5 linked regions of the Homo sapiens genome follow. The protein of the gene in region 3 purifies or fractionates together with the protein of the main gene of each other region. This does not show direct contact. Each region holds a gene or a part of one and is shown on either strand. Other genes may lie near its edges. The genes, in order: AP3S1, COBLL1, BTBD8, ZC3H14 and KIRREL1.

The links.
Region 1: the proteins of BTBD8 (region 3) and AP3S1 purify together in Homo sapiens (affinity purification with mass spectrometry; one large-scale study listed by BioGRID and IntAct). This does not show direct contact.
Region 2: the proteins of BTBD8 (region 3) and COBLL1 purify together in Homo sapiens (affinity purification with mass spectrometry; one large-scale study listed by BioGRID and IntAct). This does not show direct contact.
Region 4: the proteins of BTBD8 (region 3) and ZC3H14 purify together in Homo sapiens (affinity purification with mass spectrometry; one large-scale study listed by BioGRID and IntAct). This does not show direct contact.
Region 5: the proteins of BTBD8 (region 3) and KIRREL1 purify together in Homo sapiens (affinity purification with mass spectrometry; one large-scale study listed by BioGRID and IntAct). This does not show direct contact.

Annotation. Positions count from the first base shown.
Region 1 is NC_000005.10:115,865,344-115,870,041, reverse strand, and holds part of AP3S1 (AP-3 complex subunit sigma-1), read right to left. Parts: intron 3,373-4,698; coding exon 3,281-3,372; intron 26-3,280; coding exon 1-25. UniProt on the Homo sapiens protein: Part of the AP-3 complex, an adaptor-related complex which is not clathrin-associated. The complex is associated with the Golgi region as well as more peripheral structures.
Region 2 is NC_000002.12:164,698,031-164,702,728, forward strand, and holds part of COBLL1 (cordon-bleu protein-like 1), read right to left. Parts: intron 2,727-4,698; coding exon 2,492-2,726; intron 1,470-2,491; coding exon 1,375-1,469; intron 1-1,374.
Region 3 is NC_000001.11:92,078,327-92,083,691, reverse strand, and holds the start of BTBD8 (BTB/POZ domain-containing protein 8), read right to left. Parts: upstream 3,348-5,365; 5' UTR 3,121-3,347; coding exon 2,972-3,120; intron 1-2,971. UniProt on the Homo sapiens protein: Involved in clathrin-mediated endocytosis at the synapse. Plays a role in neuronal development and in synaptic vesicle recycling in mature neurons, a process required for normal synaptic transmission.
Region 4 is NC_000014.9:88,603,730-88,608,427, forward strand, and holds part of ZC3H14 (zinc finger CCCH domain-containing protein 14), read left to right. Parts: intron 1-3,513; coding exon 3,514-3,634; intron 3,635-4,698. UniProt on the Homo sapiens protein: RNA-binding protein involved in the biogenesis of circular RNAs (circRNAs), which are produced by back-splicing circularization of pre-mRNAs.
Region 5 is NC_000001.11:158,097,236-158,101,492, reverse strand, and holds the end of KIRREL1 (kin of IRRE-like protein 1 isoform 1 precursor), read right to left. Parts: 3' UTR 1,231-4,257; downstream 1-1,230. UniProt on the Homo sapiens protein: Required for proper function of the glomerular filtration barrier. It is involved in the maintenance of a stable podocyte architecture with interdigitating foot processes connected by specialized cell-cell junctions, known as the slit diaphragm.

The sequences.
Region 1 (4,698 bases), on a different chromosome or scaffold from region 3:
TTTGTTGTCAGATCCTCCAATTAATCTAAATGACAAAAAAATTGTAATGTTATTGGAAACAAAATGCGAATCATTTTCATTAGCTCAAGCAAACTGACAATTTGTTTAAAAACCACTTGTCAAATGAAAGGTGACATTCAATGGCAAAGTATTTAAGTGAACTTATTCAGAGACTAGGTGAATTAAGGTGGCTGTTTTCTTCAGAAACATCAAGTAAAAGAAGCCAGTGCTTAATTTCAGTTCATTCATTCATTAAACTATTCTCTGAGTAACTACTATGTGCCAAGCACTGGTAGTGGGGAAGAAGCAACAAACACACACATCAGAACATCATCAGATAGTGGCAAGTGTTACACTGACAATCAAAATACAATGATGATATATTGATGGGTTCCCTACTTCAGGCTGAATATTAAGCAAGAGTGGCATTTAAGCTGAGATCTAATGATAAGGAGTTGGCTTGGAAAAAATTTAGAGAAGAGCATTTCAGGCTAAGGTAGTAAGTACTAAAAGGACATTTCATCAAGAACAAAGTATGTATGTTCAGGGAAGAGAAAAAAGGCCAGTAGATAAGAAAAGATTAGTAAATGATAAAGTCAGAGAAGTAGGCGGAAATTAGATCATGGGGCATTTGTAAGTGCTTACTAGATTTAACTCCATACGTCACAGTAAGTTACACAGCTTAAGACTGATTATCAACCAGAAAAAAAAGAAGAATGACACTTCTTAAGTTTTGGATAGATTTACCGTCAAGATCTCTTCCAAAATTACATTGTTTTGACATAAATGCAAGAAAACTGAGCTAAGATACTAAACTCTTTCATGAAATACTTTTATTTATAATGACTGGAATTTTAGTATTTTAGAAATAATAATTTAGGAATCATTCCAAACATATTTTTCTAAATATAGTTTAGCTATTTCATAGTTAAGTTTACAATAATGAATTCACCTTCTTAAAAGACCCCTAAACACTTACATAATTTACAATCAAGGCTATATGTAACCAAAATTAAACTAACATCCATCCCAACAGAATATGGGAAAATGGCATCTCTCCCTCCCTCCCTCCCTCCCTCCCTCCCTCCCTTCCTTCCTTCCTTCCCTCCCTCCCTCCCTTCATCCTCTCTTTCTCTGTCTCTCTCTCTCTCTTTCTTTTTGAGACAGAGTTTCACTCTGTCACCCAGGCTGGAGTGCAATGGTGCTATCTCAGCTCACTGCAGCCTCTGCCTCCTGGCTTCAAGCAATTCTCCTGCCTCAGCCACCAAAGTAGCTGCAATTACAGGCGCACACCACCACACCTGGCTGATTTTTGTACTTTTAGTAGAGATGGGGTTTCACCATGTTGCCCAGGCTGGTCTCGAACTCCTGAGCTCAGGAGATCTGCACGCCTAGGCCTCCCAAAATGCTAGGATTACAGGCGTGAGCCACTGCGCCTGGCCAGCATCTATTTCTTACACAGTAAAAATAATACTAAACTTATAAGTTCTGTAGAAACAACTTCCCAAGGTATATACTACTTCTATGTCTTCTAATAGCAAAAGGAGAAATGATCTTTGACAAGAATAAAAATTTCCTACTATGCTAGATACTCTTCTAGAGAAGATGTTTAATTTAAAAATATCTACATGCAATTTAAAGATTCTGAGAGTATATTTACAGACTATGACTGCAATTGTTCCCTGAAAGAGGCAAAAAGAACACAAATAGGAGGCTTTACTCCATTCTGAATCAGCGATTTAGTGATTATCTTAAAACTTTTGCTTTACTTTAAAAGGACAGCAAACTTCTGAAGAATATAAGTTTCAAAAAGGCCAGTAATGCTATTAAAAGCAAGCAAAATATTAATGCGGCAAGTACATATTTTGCCTTTAAAAATATAATCTTATCTTTAAGCTATAGTATAATACTGACAAAAATTCCTGTACAGAATGTAATACATCATATAAAACCACAGGACTGAGAAATCCTGTTAGTCCAAATAACTCATTTTATAGAGGAGAAAACTGAGGCCTGAGAATTTAAGTAACCTGTCCAAGGAAATCAGCTAGTTAGTGACAAAACTAGGATTAAACTAGATGTGAGGCCTCATCTCTGCTGCAATATTTGCTTTCTATTTTTTGTAAGGTTAAAAAAGAACAATCACAATTTCCAGCCACAATTTCTAATTCAAATAGCACCCTAGTAAGATTAATCAAGTTCTTACATGCAGTGCACTGTGCTGGGTGGTAAGTTTCCTAGGAGATAAGAAATCAAGAGGCTAGGATGAGAGGAAGTGATAGTAATGTCAAAGACAACTAAAATTAAATAAGTACAAGTAAAATTCAAAAACAGAAGCAGGTACACTTGTCTCAATTATTAAATTAGAAGCCTTGAGTTAACAGCAAAATTTGTAAGTATGTATTGGACATTTAAGGACAGCATGATATAATCTTTCAGGAAACCCAAGTTAAGTGTTCCACATGATAAAAAGTACCTTATGACCATGGATTCCCTGTTATCCAGAGTATTTCTCATCCATCATACACAGTAAAATACAGAAAATTCTAAGTTTCTCTGACTGATTTATGTTTGAGAACAAACCATTTTCATGGAAGTTATTAGTTTAAAAGTATTTGTTTGTAATATTTGGCAATATTCTTATTCATTTTAAAAATAGAAAAATTGATTAGCTGAATTAGGTATATTTGAAAAACAGACTTCAGTCTTGTAACAGTAAAATAAAGAATGTAATCTAATTTTTATGAACATTCACAAAAAGGAATACTCTGTAGTCATTAAAAAGAATAAGCTTGTCCTAGATGTGTTTCTATGCAAAGCTTTTGAAAATACTGAGAACCAGCAACATGCAAATGAGCATACAAAGTGTGATCTCATAAATAAAAATTTTAAGGTTGTAGGTTAGTCAACACATATAACATACTTTATATGTTAGTCAATACAAACTATTTTCTAGAAGGATACACAAGAAATTGGGTAGAAGGACTAAGGTTGAGAGATTCTTATTTTACATTTTATACTTCCCTGTAATGTTGGAATTTTTACGATTTAATATATTACCTTTATATAAAATTCCCTTCCAAAATTTTTAAGAGGAAAAAAGATTGCATATCTTTTAAAAATAATTCTTTAAGTTAGATTTATAGCTAACATAGGTGGCAATTAATTCACCTAATCCAATTAATCAAAAGTAGAAAACTTTTACCATAAACTGATTAAACAGTATATATTTTAATCACATAGTCAAAACTTAGAAATGTCTATGAAATGCTTTACTTACAATCCTCCTTCTAGGAAATTACAAACATTTTCATCTCTCTTAGATACCAAATGGAAAGTCTCCCTGATGATTTGCTGTTGTGTATCTTCACTCTGAGGAAGAATAATTCATATATATTAGGATGGAGTGTATAGGTTTAATAGCATTTTAAGAATTTTTAAAATCAAAGGTAGCAATATCTGTCTGGGAAATCCATCTAAGAGAGGGGTCCTTGGAGAAGTGACTTAAATTATACCTTACAGAAGCAAAACCCAGTATTTTTTGATGAAAAAGAAAAAAAACCCAATTATTTATATTTACCACTATAATAAAAGTAACACATTTCTAAGTTTCAAAAACCAACAAGAAAAAATATTAGATGAATTACATACACTGGTAAAAGGGAAACTAGATATTAACTAGTCAAAGCTGATTATCTTACAAATGAGTAAACTGAATCAGAAAGGTAAAGATATAAATAGTGTAGCTAATCTATATTTGAATGGAGGAAAGAAATAGAACTATGGAGCTTCCAATTAAGTTTAACCTTTACTAAATATAGACTGAGGTAAGAGTCCATCCATCTTACTCATCTTTATATAAGCCGATCTAAAGCCAAGGATTGGGTCAATAAACATTTATTAACCTGGACCAAGCAATTCATATTCCAGTAAGAGTCAGCGTCCTGGCCGGGCACAGTGGCTCATGCCTGTAATCCCAGCACTCTGAGAGGCCGAGATGGGTGGATCACAAGGTCAGGAGATCGAGACCATCCTGGCCAACACAGTGAAACCCCGTCTCTACTAAAAATACAAAAATAGCTGGGTGTGGTGGCACGTGCCTGTAATCCCAGCTACTCGGGAGGCTGAAGCAGGAGAATCGCTTGAACCCAGGAGGCAGAGATTACAGTGAGCTGAGATCGCGCCACTGCACTCCAGCCTGGCGACAGAGTGAGATTCTATCTCAAACAAAACAAAACAAGAGTAAGCTTCCTAAACACTGCAATAGAAGACTGACCAAAATCATGAACACCAATTTCACAGGAAAGGATGTGAATGGTCCACAAAGAAATGAAAAGATACTAAATCGCAGTAGTAATTAAGTGAAATACAAATTAAAACAATGAGATAGCTCCACATGTACCATATCAGCAAAAGTATAAAAATATGATAGTAAAAAATGTTGACAACGATGTAGAGCCAAAGAAACTCTCATCTCACCAGTGGGAGGGTAAACATATAATCACTTGGGGAAACAGTTTTATTAACCAGCACTTTCTCTCCTAGATACTAATCTAAACCATATGAAACCAGTTTTTGAAGATCAAAAACAATTGCACATTGGCAATTACATAGACAGTTGACCCTTGAACAATGTGGCAGTTAGGGATGCTGATCCCCCATGCATTTGGAAATCTATGCATAAGTTTTCACTCCCCA
Region 2 (4,698 bases), on a different chromosome or scaffold from region 3:
AACAACTAGAGTTGACAAAAGTCGTAGCAAAACAAACCATATGCAAATCAAAGTACTACGTAAATGTACTTGTGACTCTGGCACTAACTTGACAACAAAAGTCTTAACAAAAATGATACAACTTGACTATTGTTTTAAAGAGAAAGAAGCAGCTTTTAAATCATAATTTCTCAATAGGAATGCTATTGCCATCACAGTACATGCTGTGAAAAACTGACTCAAGTGGAAAAGAATGAAAAAATTATTTGCTTTTAGACCTTCTCAGTATGATATCTCACAATGGTATTGAATGTGGGAGAAAATGAATCAGTAGCACACATAATCAAGTTAATGAACACATACCACACACATACAATTATATATATATATAATTATATATATAAGTATGACATTGCGATTATCTATGTCTTATTCAAATATGAATACTACATCCTAAGTTTTCTAAATATCTTAACCTAGTTTTCTAGATTAACATAATAGATTGGACTATGAGAATTCATAAGCCACTTCCTTCTTAACCCCTTAAAACACCATTGAGTATTTTTTGAATTTTCTATTTGCATAGGATTGTTTTTCTGAAATTCAATACTAAGTACATATTTTATGAGTATCTCAGGATTCTGTTAGGTGCCATGAGTAGTGCAAAGTATCACATGTAATTTATCTGATCCAAGACTGCCTAATTCAGTTGAGGAATCATAAATATAGAACCGCAAAGCTTCTAATAATCAAGTAAAAACATGAAATGATATGATTTGGATAAAAATTGAATGGGTAAAATAGATGAAAAATTGTCTTTCAGACAAAGACAACATGAATATATGCCTTATGATATAGAAATAAGCAAATGACATCATGAGAAAAAATAAGTTGTGCTAATATGAGGATGGGAACTGGGAAACAGTGGTAAATAAGGTTATATTATTAGATGATTTGGGCCTTGAAAAATCAGGCAGAAAAGTTTCATCCAAGGAAGTTAGATGGAAAAAAAGAGAAACAGATCGCAAATAGATACACAGAAGAAACATTTTTAAGATCCAAAGTCTAAATTAGATAATTTCTATGTTTTAACAACAAAAGTAGTACACATGGTAGTTAAGGGCACACTCTAGAGCAATATTGCCCCAGTTTAAATCCTAGGTTCACCACTTACCGTAGTAGTTGTGAGACCTCAGGTGAGTTATTTAATATCTCTGTGGCACAATCATCTGTAAAATGGAACTAAAAATAATAGTACCCATAATATCCATAAATGAGGTAGGTATTAAGTGAGTTACAGGAGATTAAATGAGTTAATACATATAAAGTGTTAAGAACTGTCCTTGGCACATAATAAAAGTAAGAAAGTGTTGGCTATTAATTTATATAACTCACCATTCTCTTGGTTTGGGCCCAACGACTTCAAGTTTCTTATACTGTCAACTACCTTCTTTCCATTGCTTGTATCATATACTACACTGTGTGGTTCTCTGGAAGATACGACATTGTATGTTATATGTTGATACTATTGAAACACACACATACACACACACACAGACACACACACACACAATGAGAAACAGGCAATAATTTCCAAAGACAGATGGACTAAAATAATCATTTATTTCTGCCAAACATCGGAAATTTAATAGCAGAGAAAAAATATAACTGAGAAGAAATGCTGCTATGAAACATTAGCTTTCATGTGGTGGTCCCATTAAAAAGAAAGAAGCTTGGTAAAATAGACACTTTTCCAAAATAGTGGCTTTATTTTGCTATTATCATTTATTTGCCTTTTAAAGAAAAAGGAAATTAAATGAAACATTTTAGTTTTTCATCTGGCAAGGTCAACTATATAAATAAGAATGTAGATTGACCTCACTGATCTTTTTTTCCCTTTGGTGGTAGAATAGTTTAATAAGGAGACAATCTCATGCAAATTATAATAAACGTCTGACATATATGGTTTATTTTGCTTGGTTGATTTCATCTTTATCCATGTTGTTGCATTTCAAACCTAAGTGGACTAGACTATAGCTGTCTGTTTCTAGAATAAAGCAGAAAGTACATTCTCTGTTTCATAAAGTTGACTGCAAAGATAATACTCGTGATTTAACATCATATTCTAATATGCATAATTGTTTTCATATACCAGTGAAAATCCACCAGGAATACTTGGTAAAAATTGAAAATTAAATATTACATATAGGTCACATAGGTTAACAGGCAAAACACCCACAAAAAGAAAAATTTTCATTTTTGAATCACACAAACTATTTCTCATGGTTTATCTGACACAGGGATATTAGAACTGTCACATTTGATTTTCTTTGAATGTAATTACATGCAAATAAGTACTTCATTAATAAACATTCTTATATAATGGTAAAAAGGATAAAGTCAAAACCAAAGGGCTGACTATATTTATGTTTAAAATATCAGATCTATATTTCAGAAGACTAGTATTAATTAAACTAACGGCCACCAACACTCCAGCACAGAGACTACTTACTGTCCATCTGTGCTTTTAGTTTCTTGTTTTTCTTCCATGGAGTTTTGTGAGAACTCTCCACTACCATTGCCAAGGGCTGAGTCAGGATCATTTTTCAGTGTATTTATTATATCAGTAGATACAAAAGGAATATCTTGTGACTTCGGAGAAATATTTTCAGCTTCAACTTTAGGCACTTCACTCAGTTCTTCCTTTTCATCTATCTCTTCAAGGCTATAATCAGAGCTTATTCCAGCTACAAAGAAATGCAGATATAATCCTAAATATTAATTTGCCTCATTCATCACATGCAATTCTGGCAAGGAAGGAATTTTGAAAAATAATAATTAGCTGGACTCTTTTAAATTCTGCCTCAAAAATAATAGTGAAGTTCTTTCTCCTGGTGAGCAGTCACGTTAACATAAAACCAGATTATCTCAGACTCATAATTCCCAAAACAATTTGCTATCACTCTAGGTTTTATTCATGGTAGAGACAAGAGGTTATTTAATCTCATAAACTTTAAGTTAAATATTTCATTTAAGAAATGTCTTACAATTGAATGGTTTTTACACTCATCCAGCAACTCAATAGTGCAAATTAAAGGCAAATTAATAATTTTAAAAGTGAAAATGAAAAGCACATGAGATTTTTGTATTGTCTACAAGGGCACTCATAAAATTTGACTCAATAGTTATTAGTACCAACTATACTTGAGAATTACCTGAGCCCCCTTTAAAAATATTGAGGCTCACACCCTACTCCACAAAATCAGAATCTCTGAAGGGTGGGGCAAGGGATTTTTAAGACTACTTAGATGATTCTACTATGCAACCTCAGTTAAAAGCCACTGACCTAGATGCTTAATTTGTGAAAATACAAATAGAGCAAGTATTGGACAATGAAAATTAAGTTTTATTCCTAACCAGTTTGATTCTCAGAGGCAACTTGCTTTAACAGTTTTTCCTGTATGTCCTGAGAAAGTGTAATATACATACATAGGCTGATAACCATACTCACGTTTCCTTTTGTTAGTTTATTTAATATAAATGGAAGCATACTGTAGCCACCTAGCTTTTTTTCCACTTACAATATCTTAAATATCATCCATATTAATATATATGTTTACACATAAATATTTTCAATAGCTGTGGTTAACATTTCACTGTATAAAAAAAATGTATTTTATCACCAACAACCAGTAGCCAGCAGGGTAAAAGAGAAGGAGGCATCCTGAGCAGTTAATGTTCATGCTTATTGTCAAGATTAGCCATGGAAGTAAATGTAAGCCAGAGTGAGGTTCTGGATTTTTGCTAAATATAATTAAACATTTCCATATACACCACAGTATCTGAATGAAATTTAATTTTATCCCAAGGCTGGGGATGTGGTGGGAGGGGGGGGCGGGGTGGGGAGGTGGTGTAGCATCCAATTATAGTAATCAGCACATTCAGAAAATTTAATTTAAATTTTTAACATAATTCAATATTTAAAGTACTTAAAATATATTTTTAAAATTTTATCTCTAAGTATACAGACAGAAAAGTGTGCTATTTGTGCTCTTTGAGAAATAAACATGAGAAATTTTAATGGTATTTTTATCATTAATAAAAATAGATTACTCAATAAAAAATATTTTAAAATTTAGGTTTAAGTGAATATTCAAATGTACATATTTTGGCAAATGATGCTTTATTATGATGTGAAATAGAAATAATGTGTCTACGATAGCATATTGTATCTATGTGTTAAGAACGTATTTATATAATTTGAAAACTCTAGGCTGGGCGTGGTGGCTCACGCCTGTAATCCCAGCACTTTGGGAGGCTGAGGAGGGCGGATCACAAGGTCAGGAGATCGAGACCATCCTGGCCAACATAGTGAAACCCCGTCTCTACTAAAAATACAAAAAAATTAGCCAGGTGTGGTGGCGGGCGCCTGTAGTCCCAGCTACTCAGCAAGCTGAGGCGGGAGAATGGCGTGAACCCAGGAGGTGGAGCTTGCAGTGAGCCGAGATCACGCCACTGCACTCCAGCCTGGGCAACAGTGAGACTCCTCAAAAAAAAAAAAAAAAAAATAATAATAATAATAATTTGAAAACTCTGTATTGAAAAAAAATGAAAGGCCATGATGGTTTAGATACAAATGTGTTTTTTAATTTTTATTATAAGGTCTTGCTTTGTCACCCAGGCTGGAGTTCAGTGGCATGATCATAGCTCACTGCTGTC
Region 3 (5,365 bases):
ATTTTAAAAACACCGATGGTTCTCCACTCCTTCTAGATACATCACAAACATTTCACTGGAGAAAGAAAGCCCCTGTGATCCAGTCTTAGTCTACCCATTCACCCTTACCTACTGTCACTTTGATTGCCTGCCATGCAATCTCCTTCCGAATAAAGCTACCAAATTTATTTATTACTTATATGTGGCCCTGGTTTGTACCACATGCCCCTACATCCTAATCACATCTGAATGGACAATGGGCTAAACCAAGGTTAGCCACTGGCCAATGCAGTAATCAAGCAGGAGAACTTGAGCAAAGATGTTCTATAATAAACATGAACCAACTGATGGCACTGAAGAGCATTCTTAAGCAAATCTATGGTAGAAAAAGAAATGGGTAAGGAGAGAAGAGGAGATGAAGGTACAAAGTTAACTGGAAGATCAGTTTACTGTAGAGGAGGCAGACTGCTTGGGTTCATATTCTGGTTATGTGACCCTGGGCAAGTCATTTGAAAGTCTCTGGAGCCAGATTGCCAAGGTTCTTATTCTGACTCCACCACTTTTTTTTTTTTTTTTTGAGACAGAGTCTTGTTCTGACGCCCAGACTGGAGGGCAGTGGCTTGATCTCAGCTCACTGCAATCTCCACCTCCCCGGTTCAAACAATTCTCCTGCCTCAGCCTCCCAAGTAGCTGGGACTATAGGTGCCACCATCATTTCTTTTTTAACATTCAGTTTCCTCTTGTGTTAAATGAGAATAACAAGACTTACCTCACAGGATTCATGAGAGAAGTAAGTAAAACATTTCATGTAAGCCCAGTGTATAGCAAATAGTAGGATGGCAATAAGTATTAGTGTTTTTTTTTTACCACTGCCCTGAATAACAGTCCATTTGTCAATGTGGTCTTATTGTATGACTGTTACCATATCCCAAACAACTTTCCAGTTCTACATTGGAGCTGGCTTTTTGACAGCTAAAACTGTCTCCCACTTTTCCTCACTTCTCTACATATCTTGTCACGTCAGGTAACCTAGGAGTGTCTCTGTTCCTTACTATTTGGCAGAGTCTAATACGACTTGCTTTCTCAAAATCAATCAAGCTCTTTCAAATTTCTGTGCTTCCATAAAAGTTATTCCCCTTGTTTAGATATCCTCTACCTCTCCCTTCCCAATCTTTACCTAATCAATTCTTAACCAATCCCTAAGAGCTCACTCAAATGTCACCCTATAAAGTCTTCCCAACTCACCCCACCACAACTATCACTTTTATTTAGCCATTTCCTCTCTCACTAGAGTGTAAGGACAAACAACAAAGCAATGTTTTATTAACGTTTATTACTTAAGACCTAGTACCGGGCTAGGTACGTGGTCAGTGCTAGATACTTCATTAGTATTTGTAGAATAAATAAATGACATTGCTATGCTTGGAGAAAATTAATTTAGTATAGCATTTAAGGTGGTTGGGTGAGCATTTTGTTTTGTTTTGTTTTAAAAAAAAACCTTGCTACATCTATTTTTCTTTGTTTATAATAAGAATTTGAGAGTTCTGAGTCCTACCCTCAGTTGTAACTAAGATAAGGATAAATTGTTCACTAGCAATACTTTAACCTCATTTTCTTCATATAAATTAGATGTGTTACCCTAGAAACGTTAACAACTTTAGTATTATTTTTTCCATCTTTTTCATCAGTCCCTCCCTGGTAGAGACAAAGTAGCTTCCCCAGTAGATAGTCCCAAATTAAAGGGATTTTTTTTTTACTTTGATAAATTCTGTTTATAGCTATCGGAGCCTTAAGTATGGGTGAGTTTTTGACAGAAAGCACTTCAAAATGTAGAATCCTGGCTGGGCGCAGTGGCTCACGCCTGTAATCCCAGCATTTTGGGAGGCCGAGGCGGGCGGATCACTTGTGGTCACGAGTTCGTGACTAGCCTGGCCAACATGATGAAATCCCGTCTCTACTAAAAATACAAAAATTAGCCGGGCGTGGTGGCGCGTGCCTGTAATCCCAGCTACTCGGGAGGTTGAGGCAGGAGAATGGCTTGAACCCGGGAGGTGGAGGTTGCAGTGAGCCGAGATCGCGCCACGGCGCTCCAGCCTGGGCGACAGAGCGAGACTCCGTCTCCAAAAAAAAAAAAGTAGAATGCTGCACAACTTTTAATTATTAGTAATTATGTTTACCTCAGTGGTTCTCATAGTCACCCTAGCCAGCAGCATTAGCATCACTTGGGGCCTTGTTAGAAATGGAAAATTTCAGTGATGCCCACCCAAGTTTAAGAATCAATGTCTTGCTGGAAATGTAAATTAGCTAGGTCATATTTCTAAGCTTCAATTTCTTTGTAAGCTGAAATTACTTTAGCTGGATTCCCAATAACCCGAGAAGGATATCCATGAGGCTTACAAAGGTTAAATGTCAGGAAGACCCTCCATTTGCTTTGGTCCTCACAGGAGCTGAGAGTTGCTGGGAGCTACAGAGAGCTCTAGGTGGAGAGAGGAATCCAGGTCGCAATCAGGAAGCATTTCTGGTAAATTGTTTAAAGAGACCTCAGAAGAGACCTCCAAGACTATAGTATTGTTCTTTCCTCATTTCAAATAATCGTTTTCCTAATTTTATTATTTTTCTTAAAATAGTATAAGCTTATTTTAAAAATTGTGTAAGTTTCAGGACCTGGATCCACCCGACCTTAGTGATTGGAAACAACTAAGCGTGCCTGTGTTGAGATATTTCTAGCAAACTAGTGCTGCACACGACTAAGCTTTTTTTGTTTTCCTTTTGAATCTGGTACATGGTGTCGAGGTGCTCGGGATTGTTTATTCAGGGCGAGCGAAGCCACTTTTCGGAATAGTGGGGAGACTGGCTAACGACCCGCAGTCGCCTGAGGCGAGGAGAACCAAGTGCTGAGGGAGGGGGAGGCAGAGCCGAAAGAAGCCTCAGCTTCGGGGCGGAGGTGGGCGATTTAGGAACTGAAGCAGCCAGAGTTCCCGCCTCCTCCTACCTGAGCAAATCCTGGCTGAGCTGCTCCGACACCGTCGCCTTCAGCCGGCGCCGCTCACACGGCCCCTTCCTTTGCAACCCCTTACTGCAAACTCCAGCGGACCCCAGAAGTACCATGGGGGCCGCACTGCCTTCCCCACAGCGAGCCATGTCTCACAGAGGTACGACGCCCTGGAGGCCCAGTACTTGGCCTCACTTGCCCCGCCCAGGAGGAAGAAGGGGGCGTTTCCGACCGAACGCTCGGCTCCTACCCAAATCCGCCCCCTAGGGTAAAAGGTTGACGCCTCTCGTCGGTTTGTAGACAGTCTCCCAGAGAAGCCGGACCGCGGTGGGGAGCCTCAGAATCCCAGAACCGAGCCGGCTCTTGACCCAGGAAGAGCGTGCGCAGGCGTACTCGCTCTGTTTACTTCTGCCGGCGGGCACCCCGCCTCCCATGGCTCAGGCGCGGACCATCCCGCGGGGCAAACCAATCCTCAGGCTCCTTATCCCCTCCCCTCTTCTTTCCCTTCCGGTTGGTGTTCATTCATTTCAATGTTTTACTGAGGCTCGAGTTCAAATCAGCACATGCAGCCTTTCTATGCTGTGTCTTCCTGACAGGTCTACACTTTTTTCCAACGAAAGACTGGGCGAGTCACACCCCCTCACTTACCTGGCTTCTTAACCCTGAGGTATAAATGTTTGGGGCAAGAAAAATTGGCGATGGGAGGAGTAGGGGAAGAACTTCATAAACTGCCAGTCAGAACAATTCTGAGTTCAATATAAGAGATACTTACAGCATCTAGAAGGCCCCATCCCCTTCTTATCCAAGGAGTGGCTCATACAAGCTTTTGGACTTGATCGGAGAAAGCACAGGGCTTTGCATATAAAGCCCTAACATTTATGACCAAGAAGGGAGAAATAGGTAAGGGGCAAAGTCTTTGAGCAGTGAAGTGATGGATGGATGAAATATAGAATTCTCTTTTGTCCCAAATAAAGTAGCAAACTGATTATCATTTAAGGTTTTGGTATTTTTTATTTGATTACTGCCTCCAAAATAAGGAAACTCAGTAGTTCCGCTTCGGGCCGGGCAAGTCCCATCTACTTGGGAAGCGAGGCGGAATGATGGCTTGAGCCCGGGAGGTCGAGGCTGCAGTGAGCCATGATTGCACCACTGCACTCCAGCCTGAACAGCACAGCAAGACCCTGTCTCAAAAAAAAAAAAAAAAAAAAAAATCTGTTTCATTCACAAACTCTACACACAAGGTGAAGAATAGTAATTGCTTGGAAAATACATTGGCCAGGTTGCGGTGGCTCACACCTGTAATCCCAGCACTTTGGGAAGCCAAGGCGGGAGGATCACTTGAGCCCAGGAATTAGAGACCAGCCTGGGCAACATAAGGAGACCCTGTCTCTACCAAACAAAAAAAAAAAAAAAGGAGGCGGGGAGGGGAATATATGGACTTTGTATTTGTACCATAAGATTGGCCAAGAGGTAACCATTTCTTCAGATAATGCCCCCTCTCAAATATTCAGACATCTTAATTCTGAAAAATATAACTGGATAATTGATTTTTTAAAATTAATTCCCAAATGCTTGGATGGATAATTGATTCTTAATTATTCCTGTAGAAACGAGGGGTGTCAAAGATAACATAATAGTAGCTTATATTTGAATCCTTATTATGTGATAAACGCTACTCTATTTGCTCTGTGTGTTTTAACTCAGTTAATCCTTACAACAACCATTTAGCTAGGTACTGTCTTCAGACCTATTTACAGATGAGGAAGCTGAGGCATACAAAGGATAGGTAAACTTGGCCAAGGTCACACAATGTCATATATCACACTATAATATATGGTGTGTTACACCATAATAATGGTGTATTATAACCCAGGCAGTATTTATATTTTGACTGGCAAATTTAGTCAATTTACATATACTTTTCGTAGGAATGTAAATTGGTGCAGCCATTATGGAAAACAGTATGGAGGTTCCTCAAAAAATTAAAAATAGGACTATGACATGACCCAGCAAACCCTCTTCAGGTATATACCCAAAGGAAATGAAATTAGCACCTCATAGAGATATCTGCACTTTCATGTTTGTTGCCCCATTATTCACAATAGCTAAGATATGGAAACAACCTAACTGTCCCTAGGATAGATTAACGGATAATGTTGTATATATACAATGGAATATTATTCATTCTTAAAAGAGAAGATCCTGCCATTTGTGACAACATGGATGAAGCTGGAGGACGTTAAGTAAAATTAGCCAGGCACAGAAAGACAAATACTGCCTGACGCCTGTAATTGCAGCACTTTAGGAGGCCGAGGTGGGCGGATCATGAGGTCAGGAGATCGAGACCATCCTGACTAACACGGTGAAACCCTGTCTCTCCTAAAAATACAAAAA
Region 4 (4,698 bases), on a different chromosome or scaffold from region 3:
TGGCAGGAGGGATAATTACTCAATCTTAAAAGCGTACAGATTCAAAGGAAAAACAGTAATGGATTTTGAAACATTTCCTTGAGTAATCCTCTTCTTGGAAGAGATATGAAAATGTATTGAATACCTTTCTCGATCATTAAAAATAGAATAGACTTCAGAGGGAAATCATATGTTAGTGGAGCAATAACACTTAGCTTTATTTTAATTGGTTGCGTTTCCTACTGTGAATCAATGACGTAGTGTCGTGGTTTTGATTAGTGGAGGGAGTTGAAAATCTGACCCTATCAACAGGAAGAAAAACTTAAAAAATAGTAAAAGCTGCAGTAGGCAGTCCCGATTTATTGACTCTGTATGTTTTGTCTAAAGAGAAGACTCCAGTGTTTTCACTACTCTTGATTTTCAATTTGGTACCTTAATTTTTTGGTCTATTAGGATCTGGTTTCATTTAAATGTAGGTGTCCATATGAGGCTTTATGGGGTATACATGTAGCAGCAGTGACACCATAAATAATATGTTAGTAAAAATTCTTGCCAGTGCTGTGGCCATTGTGCTGACAGCCATGATGAGTGGTGAGCCTCCTTTCCCATTGCTTTGACTGGGGACTCAGTGTTTCCCTGCTGCTCAAGGATGAAGCTTTGTAAGATTAGCATAGGGGTGTGGCTGGAGAGACTCCTGCAGAACAGTTCTCAGGAGTCTCTAGTCTCTGCACCACTTCCCCTGTGAGCAGGGAGTTTGAAACTGCAATTGCTTCTGGTTGGTTTTATGTTGGGTTGTTTCAAGGATGCTACCAACAACAACATCTGTTTTAACCTGCTGTCTTTTCACTCACTGTCATATGGCAGCACAGATTTTATAGCTTGCTTTCTTTGTTTTTTTTTTTTTTGAGATAGAGTCTCTCTGTCCCCCAGGCTGGAGTGCAATGGAGCCATCTCAGCTCACTGCAACTTCTGCCTTCCAGGTTGAAAGCCATTCTTCTGCCTCAGTCTCCCAAGTAGCTGGGATTACAGGCATGCACCATCACACCTGGCTAATTTTGTAGTTTAAGTAGAGACGGGGTTTTACCATGTTGGTCAGGCTAATCTCCAACTCCTGACCTCAAGTGATCCACCAACCTCGGCCTCCCAAAGTTCTGGGATTACAGGTGTGAGCCACCGTGCCTGGCCTATAGCTTTCAATAAAAGGTGAATTTGCCTCTTAAAATTTGAACAGAAAGTTTTAATAGTTTACAAAGTCGGTGTCAGCCAGTGAAGACTAGGGGCATGACCTTCGTATGACTTAATGTTTTTAAAAGAAAGATAAAGTTTCTTTGTAAGGTATTATTGTAATAATCACATTTCTTTGTAAAGTATTATATTGTTCCTGAGTATCTAGCTACTTTGCTTTCCAGCTAGGCTTCTCTTGGGTATTCTCTTAATCTTTTATTTGTACTGGGTTCTTGTGTATATATTATAGTCTGCTGTGTGTAATTTATTATAGGAAAAGGGTAAGACACATTTACTTTGCGGGGATGACACAAAAAACCTGTAAAAATTAGAGAAACTTCCAGTCATCTCACATTTTCTTTGGAACCGATTATTCTTGTATCTTAGAACTAAAATGACTTATACTGTTTTGTTTTTAGAAAGGGTATCCCTCCTGTTGCCCAGGCTGGAGTGCATTGGCACAGTCATGGCTCACTGCAGCCTCCACCTCCCAGGCTCAAGTGATTCTCCCACCTCAGCCTCCTGAGTAGTTGGTTACTACAGGTGCACACCACCATGCCTGGCTAATTTTTTGTATTTTTTGTAGAGATGGGGTTTCACCATGTTGCCCAGGCTGGTCTGAAACTCCTGAGCTCAAGTGATCTGCCCGCCTCGGCCTCCCAAAGTGCTGGGGTTACAGGCATGAGCCACCACATCCTATTTAAAGCTTAAATAGGACTTTTACTATTTTTAAAGTAGCATAGAAAACTGTTTGTATCAGGCATAGTCATAATTGCTCTTTGATGCTGCTCCTATCTGGGCTGCATGACTACATTTGTGTGCCTTGTTCTCCTGTAGTGAGGACAGAATGTGGGTCACTGGAACAGTAAGTACTCATAGAACTAGCTGCTGCTGCTATTACGACTGGTTGCCTGTTTTGCATTTTTTCCGTTTAATCATCAGACTCTAAGGAAGACATTATTTTCTCTTTGTATAGATGAGGAAACAGAATTCCAAAAAGTTAGCTAACATTTGCACAGAGTGTCTGGCTGAGCAACTAAGTGGCAGAGTCAGATTTTAACTGACCTCTGGCAAGAGGACTAGAGGAATACAGTTGAAGTGATACTTGCTTTCATGAACATGAATGTGAACCATAATACATAATACCCATGATGCTATTTTGTGGGGAGTTTAAGGTGTCTCAGTCCAGAAATTAGCAGCTGATTATTGCCTGTAGCTGTAATTTTACTTATTCAGTGTTATTTAATAAATTGCCAGCATTACAATTTCGATGAAGGCAGATTTTTGGCTTACTGAAACAGGATAAAAATCTGGCAACAGGGGTCCCACTTTGCCCTGTCATAGTAATCGAAGCTGTGATTGGATGTGGCACAGGGAGTGGAGTGGATGGGTGTGCACTTGCTTTCCAGGCTGCTGCTCCCCGTCTGTCCCTTATTGCATTTATCATCTTCAGCCCAGTCAGTCTTGCTGTTAGGGGAACTGCCCAGTCTCTGTAAGTGATGGCATTTGTGACCCCATTGTAGGTAAAAATGTTTTCCCCTTTTTAGACATTGCTGGCTGAGCGCGGTGGCTCATGCCTATAATCCCAGCACTTTGGGAGGCCGAGGTGGGTGGATCGCTTAAGTCCTGGAGTTCAAGACCAGCCTGGGCAACGTGGGGAAACCCTGTAGCCAGGCGTGGTGGCACGTGCTACTTGGTAGGGGCTGAGGTGGGAGTATCACTTGAGCCTGGGAGGCAGAGGTTGCAGTGAGCCGAGATTACACCACTGGCACACCACTGTACTCCATCCTGGGTGACAGAGCAGGACCCTGTCGTAAAAAAAAAAAAAAAAAAAAAAAGTAAAAGACATTGCTGAGTTTCGCACCTGGACTTACAGCTCAGCAGGTGGGAATCCTTTTGTATTTGGGCCACTCATCATCTTGCTGGCGTGTGAGGATTCACATCTCCTTATCACCTTACCTGTTTTCAGTTTTTATTTAATTTTATTAGTTCCCCACTTGACGTCCTTCTCTATTTTTAATTCAGCTATGAATTAGTATTGAGAATTAGAATTTTTGGTGAAAAATTTGGCCGTAGTTGCAGAGTCACTGTCCTCTTTCCTTTTCACAGTGAGAACTGTTGTCTTCTTCCTGGCAACCTTTTATAGGATTCTATGGCCAGTGTTAATCCCATAATTTGAGCTCACTTATTTTATATGACTGTACATTTAACAGAAGATTCTAAGACAGGTTTGAGGGAAATATGTTAAAGGTGCTGTGTACTGAATTGATCATAATGAATGAAATACTTTTATTTCCTTTCCCTTTGTAGCTGAGATGAGTGAACTGAGTGTGGCACAGAAACCAGAAAAACTTTTGGAGCGCTGCAAGTACTGGCCTGCTTGTAAAAATGGGGATGAGTGTGCCTACCATCACCCCATCTCACCCTGCAAGTGAGTACCATCCCCCCATCTCACCCTGCAAGTGAGTACCATCCCCCCATCTCACCCTGCAAGTACCATCCCCCATCTCACCTGGCAAGTACCATCCCATCTCACCCAGCAAGTACCATCCCCCACATCTCAACCCTCAAGTGAGTACCATCCCATCTCACCCTGCAAGTACCATCCCATTTCACCCTGCAAGTACCATCCCCCATCTCACCCTGCAAGTACCATCTCCCCATCTCACCCTGTAACTACCATCCCATCTCACCCTGCAAGTGAGTACCATCCCTGCATTTCACCCTGCAAGTACCATCTCATCTCACCCTGCAAGTACCACCCCCTCATCTCACCCTGCAAGTATCATCCCCCATCTAGCCCTGTAAGTGCGAGTACCATCCCCCATCTTACCCTGCAAGTACCATCACCCACTTCACCCTGCAAGTACCATCCCCCACCTCAGCCTGCAAGTACCATCCCCCACCTCAGCCTGCAAGTACCATCCCCTATCTCACCCTGCAAGTACCATCCCCATCTCACCCTGCAAGTATCATCCCCCACCTCACCCTGCAAGTACCATCCCCCATCTCACCCTGCAATTGAGTACCATCCCCCATCTCACCCTGCAAGTACCATCCCCCATCTCACCCTGCAAGTGAGTACCATCCCCCATCTCACCTTGCAAGTACCATCCCCCATCTCACCCTGCAAGTACCATCCCCCATCTCACCCTGCAAGTATCATCTCACCCTGCAAGTGAGTACCATCCCCCCATCTCATCCTGCAAGTACCATCCCCCATCTCACCCTGCAAGTACCATCCCCCATCTCACCCTGCAAGTACCATCCCCCATCTTACCCTGCAAGTGAATACCATCCCCATCTCACCCTGCAAGTGAATACCATCCCCATCTCACCCTGCAAGTGAATACCATCCCCCATCTCACCCTGCAAGTGAATACCATCCCCATCTCATCCTGCAAGTGAATACCATCCCCATCTCACCCTGCAAGTCATAGCCAGCTGATTTTGGCTTTCAGTTTAGTGTCTGTATCTTACACCTTATTTTGTTTT
Region 5 (4,257 bases), about 66 Mb from region 3:
CTAATAGTATTCACCTGTGCCTCCACATTTGCACAACTTTGCTTCCTCTCCTGGTCTTTTTTCCCTACTCTTTTCTGTTTGCTTTTGTATTCTATCAATGCCATTTTTACCTATGCCAGTGCAACTTACCTCAATGCAGCCTCCAAATATACCTGTACGTCGGCCTCTCATTCCCATCTGGATTGGATTCACCTTGGGCTACCTATAGGTTCTTGGTCCTGGCTACATGCCTCCAAACCCCAGGCCCCATGGCACCTTGCACCCTTCCTCAGCTGCAGCTCCTGTGCCGTGACTTCTAGCCCTCTTGGAAATGGGTTGCATTATTTCGAAAGTATTTTTTCAGCTCTTACATCCTGTCTTCCTCTCTGACTATGTTGGGTGTCCCTTGTGTACAAAAAAGGCTACGGTAAACTGTCTTGAGTTTGCTTCGTTGTTAACTGGATGAAGAAAACAATAAACCCTATTTCTCTAATGATTTATAGCTTTAAAAAACATTATCTGGGCCAAGCACAGTGGATCACACCTGTAATCCCAGCGACTCCAGAGGCCGACGTGGGTGGATTACTTGAACTCAGGAGTTCAAGACCAGCCTGGGCAACATAGCCTCTACAACAAAACAAAATAAAAGTCCAAAACAAAATAAAACAAAACATTATCTGAAAACTATTTCAGGTATCTGCAAACACTCCTGAGAAATGAGCAAACTGAAACCCTTGGGAACTCAACTCAGAGAATTTAGGATTTCTCAGCAGGATGGCCTCTGTGTGTGTGCACTGCTGCACCATCTGTTTTTTCATTCTGCTTCACTACAAGTTCAAAAGGTTGGAGACCTTGTAACTTTGCTTTTTACCCAAACCACAGCGTTTTAAATAAACAAAACCAGCCATTCTTACACACTTGTCCCAATTCCTTTGGGATCTAGATCTCAGATTCAAAAGTCTCCCCTTTTCCCATTCCCATAATGCGATTTGGCACAGAACATTTGGATGCTGTTTTCCAATAGCAGAAGCCTCCAGCTGTTTGTCCCTGAACTGCCATAATTGGCCTCAGGGTTCTGCACAAGTGGCAAACTAGAGAATACGTTTTTGCCCCACGGCCTGGAGGTGGCACAAACATTGCTTCTGCAATTTCAATCCAAACCTGTTTTTTCCCCAAACCAGGACTAACACCCAAAGCCAGGCAGGCTTTTAAGTAACTAGCCGTTAATGCATTAAATAACACAAAACATGGTACTTTTTAAAACATTTATATTTATATATATAAAAAAATTAAATATATATAATATATAGTGTGTTTGAGACTAAAAATATAGTACATAATATTTTTAAAAAAAGGAAAAAAAAGTAGAATAGGAAAAGGTGTGAGGGACACACAGATACACATTGCTAAAAACCTACAATGGTTTGTCCTAACAAAAATAATATCTTTTTTTCTCTTCTCTTAATTATCATCATGGATCCATTTATTTTTGGGGTCTGGGTGGAGAAAATTCAACAGGAGCTAGAAATGGAGGTTGCAATGCCAAGAATGGCTGGGTAGAAAATGTGACCACAGGGAGCCCTGGGCCTCTTCTGGTGAAATTGGACTTCTCAAAATTTTCTGGGTCACTGTTGCTAACAAGATTGTGTGGAGTTTTACTGTATTGGGATTTTGGCTGCTCTTTCCCCAGAGTTAGGGTATTCTCAGGGGGGACAGCATCTGAAGAGCTCCAAAAGCAAACAGAAGAGCTCAGGGCCCATCGATACTCAACAAGGCCAGTGGTTGGGGCCAGCAAAAAACCAGGGTAGGGACAGCAGACTGGCAGGAATGAGTGACAGTTCTATGCAAATGGAGTTATTATTATTATTGTTATTATTAATAAGGGCAGGTTTGTACCAGAACTGCCCAGTATGGCCTGTGACTTCTGCGCAGCAATTATTTCTCCAGGGACAGGGCCTGAAGCTACCTCACAGTGATGCAAAAAAATGGGATTCCCCACTAACCCCCACACACACCCCCTTCCTACCAAACCACACATCTCTCAGTCCTCTCCAGCAGCCCAGAGGTGAACGTCAGGACCACGCTGACAAAGATGAGCCAATGCCTTTCACAAAAAGCCTGGCCTTGAGGAGAGGAGGAGAAATACCATAGGGGGATAGGAGGAGGCCAAGAGAAGGGAATGGGATATTTAAATGCTAATTTTACAGCATCTTCACAAAAATAAATGCCTTTCAATTACATCCCTTGGCCTGTGCACTTCAGTGTTCATTATGGCCTCGCCAGGGTCAGGAGCTTCACTAATCCTTTTGGGCAATTCTCAACATGCACAGTGGCCTGTAGAGGCACCAAGCAGTGGCCTGGCTCAGGTCAGACAGCACTAACTTGGGGAAGCCAGGATTTCTGAGGCCAGGGTGCTTGGGGAGGAACTGGAGTTCAGCAGTAGGGACAGAACCTTCCACACAGCAAAGAACAAGGCAGTTCGCTCCAAACGGGTCTTGGCTTTAATGTGGTTTTCTTCAAACCCAAATGGCTGAACATTGCTATGAACATAGGTCATGTATATTGAGACACTGATTCCGTTTTATGGAGCCCTGTGGCTCCTGACAGGTTAACGAGAGGGCACGAAACTCCAGTGCGACGTGCTCCATTTTGAAAGCAGATAAAGCTCCCCTCATCAGAGTGAAGAGGAAAGTAGCCCTGCTGGAATAAGGGGAGAGCGTACCGCTTGAAGACAGGGTGCTCAGATGTTTTCATTCCAAGCAAGACAGTGATAACAGCACAGCACTGCTCCCATCCCTGGCCCCTTTCCTTTCTCACTTACTAGGCTTTTTGCTTCATGCAAACTCTGTGGCTGGACTTTGAGGGATCCAGAATTTAGGATATAGGGCGGGTCCTTCACGAGGGAAGTGACCGTGGCTCAGCCAAAATCACAAGATCCTCCTCAAGATCCAGAATGTATTCCAAAGCTGTTGTACCCCTTTCCCTCCACCGGCTCCCCTTGCAAGCTGCTCCTTCTCAGGCAGGGGCAGCTGTGCTTACTCCCCGACCTCTGGCTCCAGGCACCTTGGACTGCAGGCTTCACCTGTTTGGTGAGAAGAACAAGCTGTCCCTGGGCCAGAGGAATGTTCCTAAGGATCAGGGTGGAGGAAGGCTCCTCCCATTTTCCCCTACAGAAGGAGTGCCTGAAACCTAGGCACATAACAATATCCCTATGTGCATACTATGTCCTGCCCTGGCAAAAGGCACCTTTGCAAACCCATCAGAAATGAGTGGGGAGCAGCACAGATGACCCGATAGCCAAAGGATAGCCCCACATCAATTTTACTCTGAGGTTTAGGGTGTATTTTGTGTTGCTGTTTGGGATAAAGGGGTCCCTGGTGGAAACTAATTCACTTCTGACAAGATAATGAAGCCCATGGTGAAAGCTTCTTTGAACAGGAGAGAACCCCCCCAGCCAGCTCTCCAGCCCTCACCATGCTTGCTACTGTTCCCAGTTCCTTGCCAGCAATGGGCAGTCCCATCCCTACCCCCAACCCTATGGGTATAACAAAACCAGAATAGTTTTAGGTTTATGCAACCCTCCCCCTTCATTTTACAGGCCAGACAAATTGGGGGCAATGAACAGAAAGTTAGGCCGAGATCTAACCTTTGCAGCTTCAGGACTGGGTCCTGGGTCTCCTGACCTTTAGTCCCTTGCTCTTTCCACTAAAACAAGCCACCAAAGGTGATCAGGATCACCAACTACTGAGGCATCACCATGTTGCAGGACTCCAGGATTCGACAGCAAAGCTCTGTGATCAAGGACGCCTTCCACTCCCCAGAAAAGCTATTCCACTGGGCCCATCAGGTAGGTTCCAATTCAGATTCTGATGCACCAACACGTAAGTTACAGAGGGCAGAGACTACCTTGGTTGCTGATGCTTCCCTGTGCCTTCCAGGGTGCTTGTTTGACACCCAAGAGGCTCCAGTTACCTTGTTAAGGAGTAGAGGACAGTGAAGTAGCTCTGTGTCAGGCTTCTGGAAACTAGGCTTCCTTTCTCAACAATTCTCCCTGCACCATCAGCTCAATTACCTAGTAACCTTAGGCCCTCTCTCCATCATTTCAGTAGAATGAAACTAATACTTAAGCTAAAAGGGGATAAATAAGAGAATCTAGCCAAACCCAAAACAAAAATGAATTCTTTTTGGAATATGCATGTTTTAAAAGCCACCATCTTTAGACTTCAAGTCTTTGGATTCCCCCATGGTTTCTGGTTTTTGTGAAAATAATAGAAATTT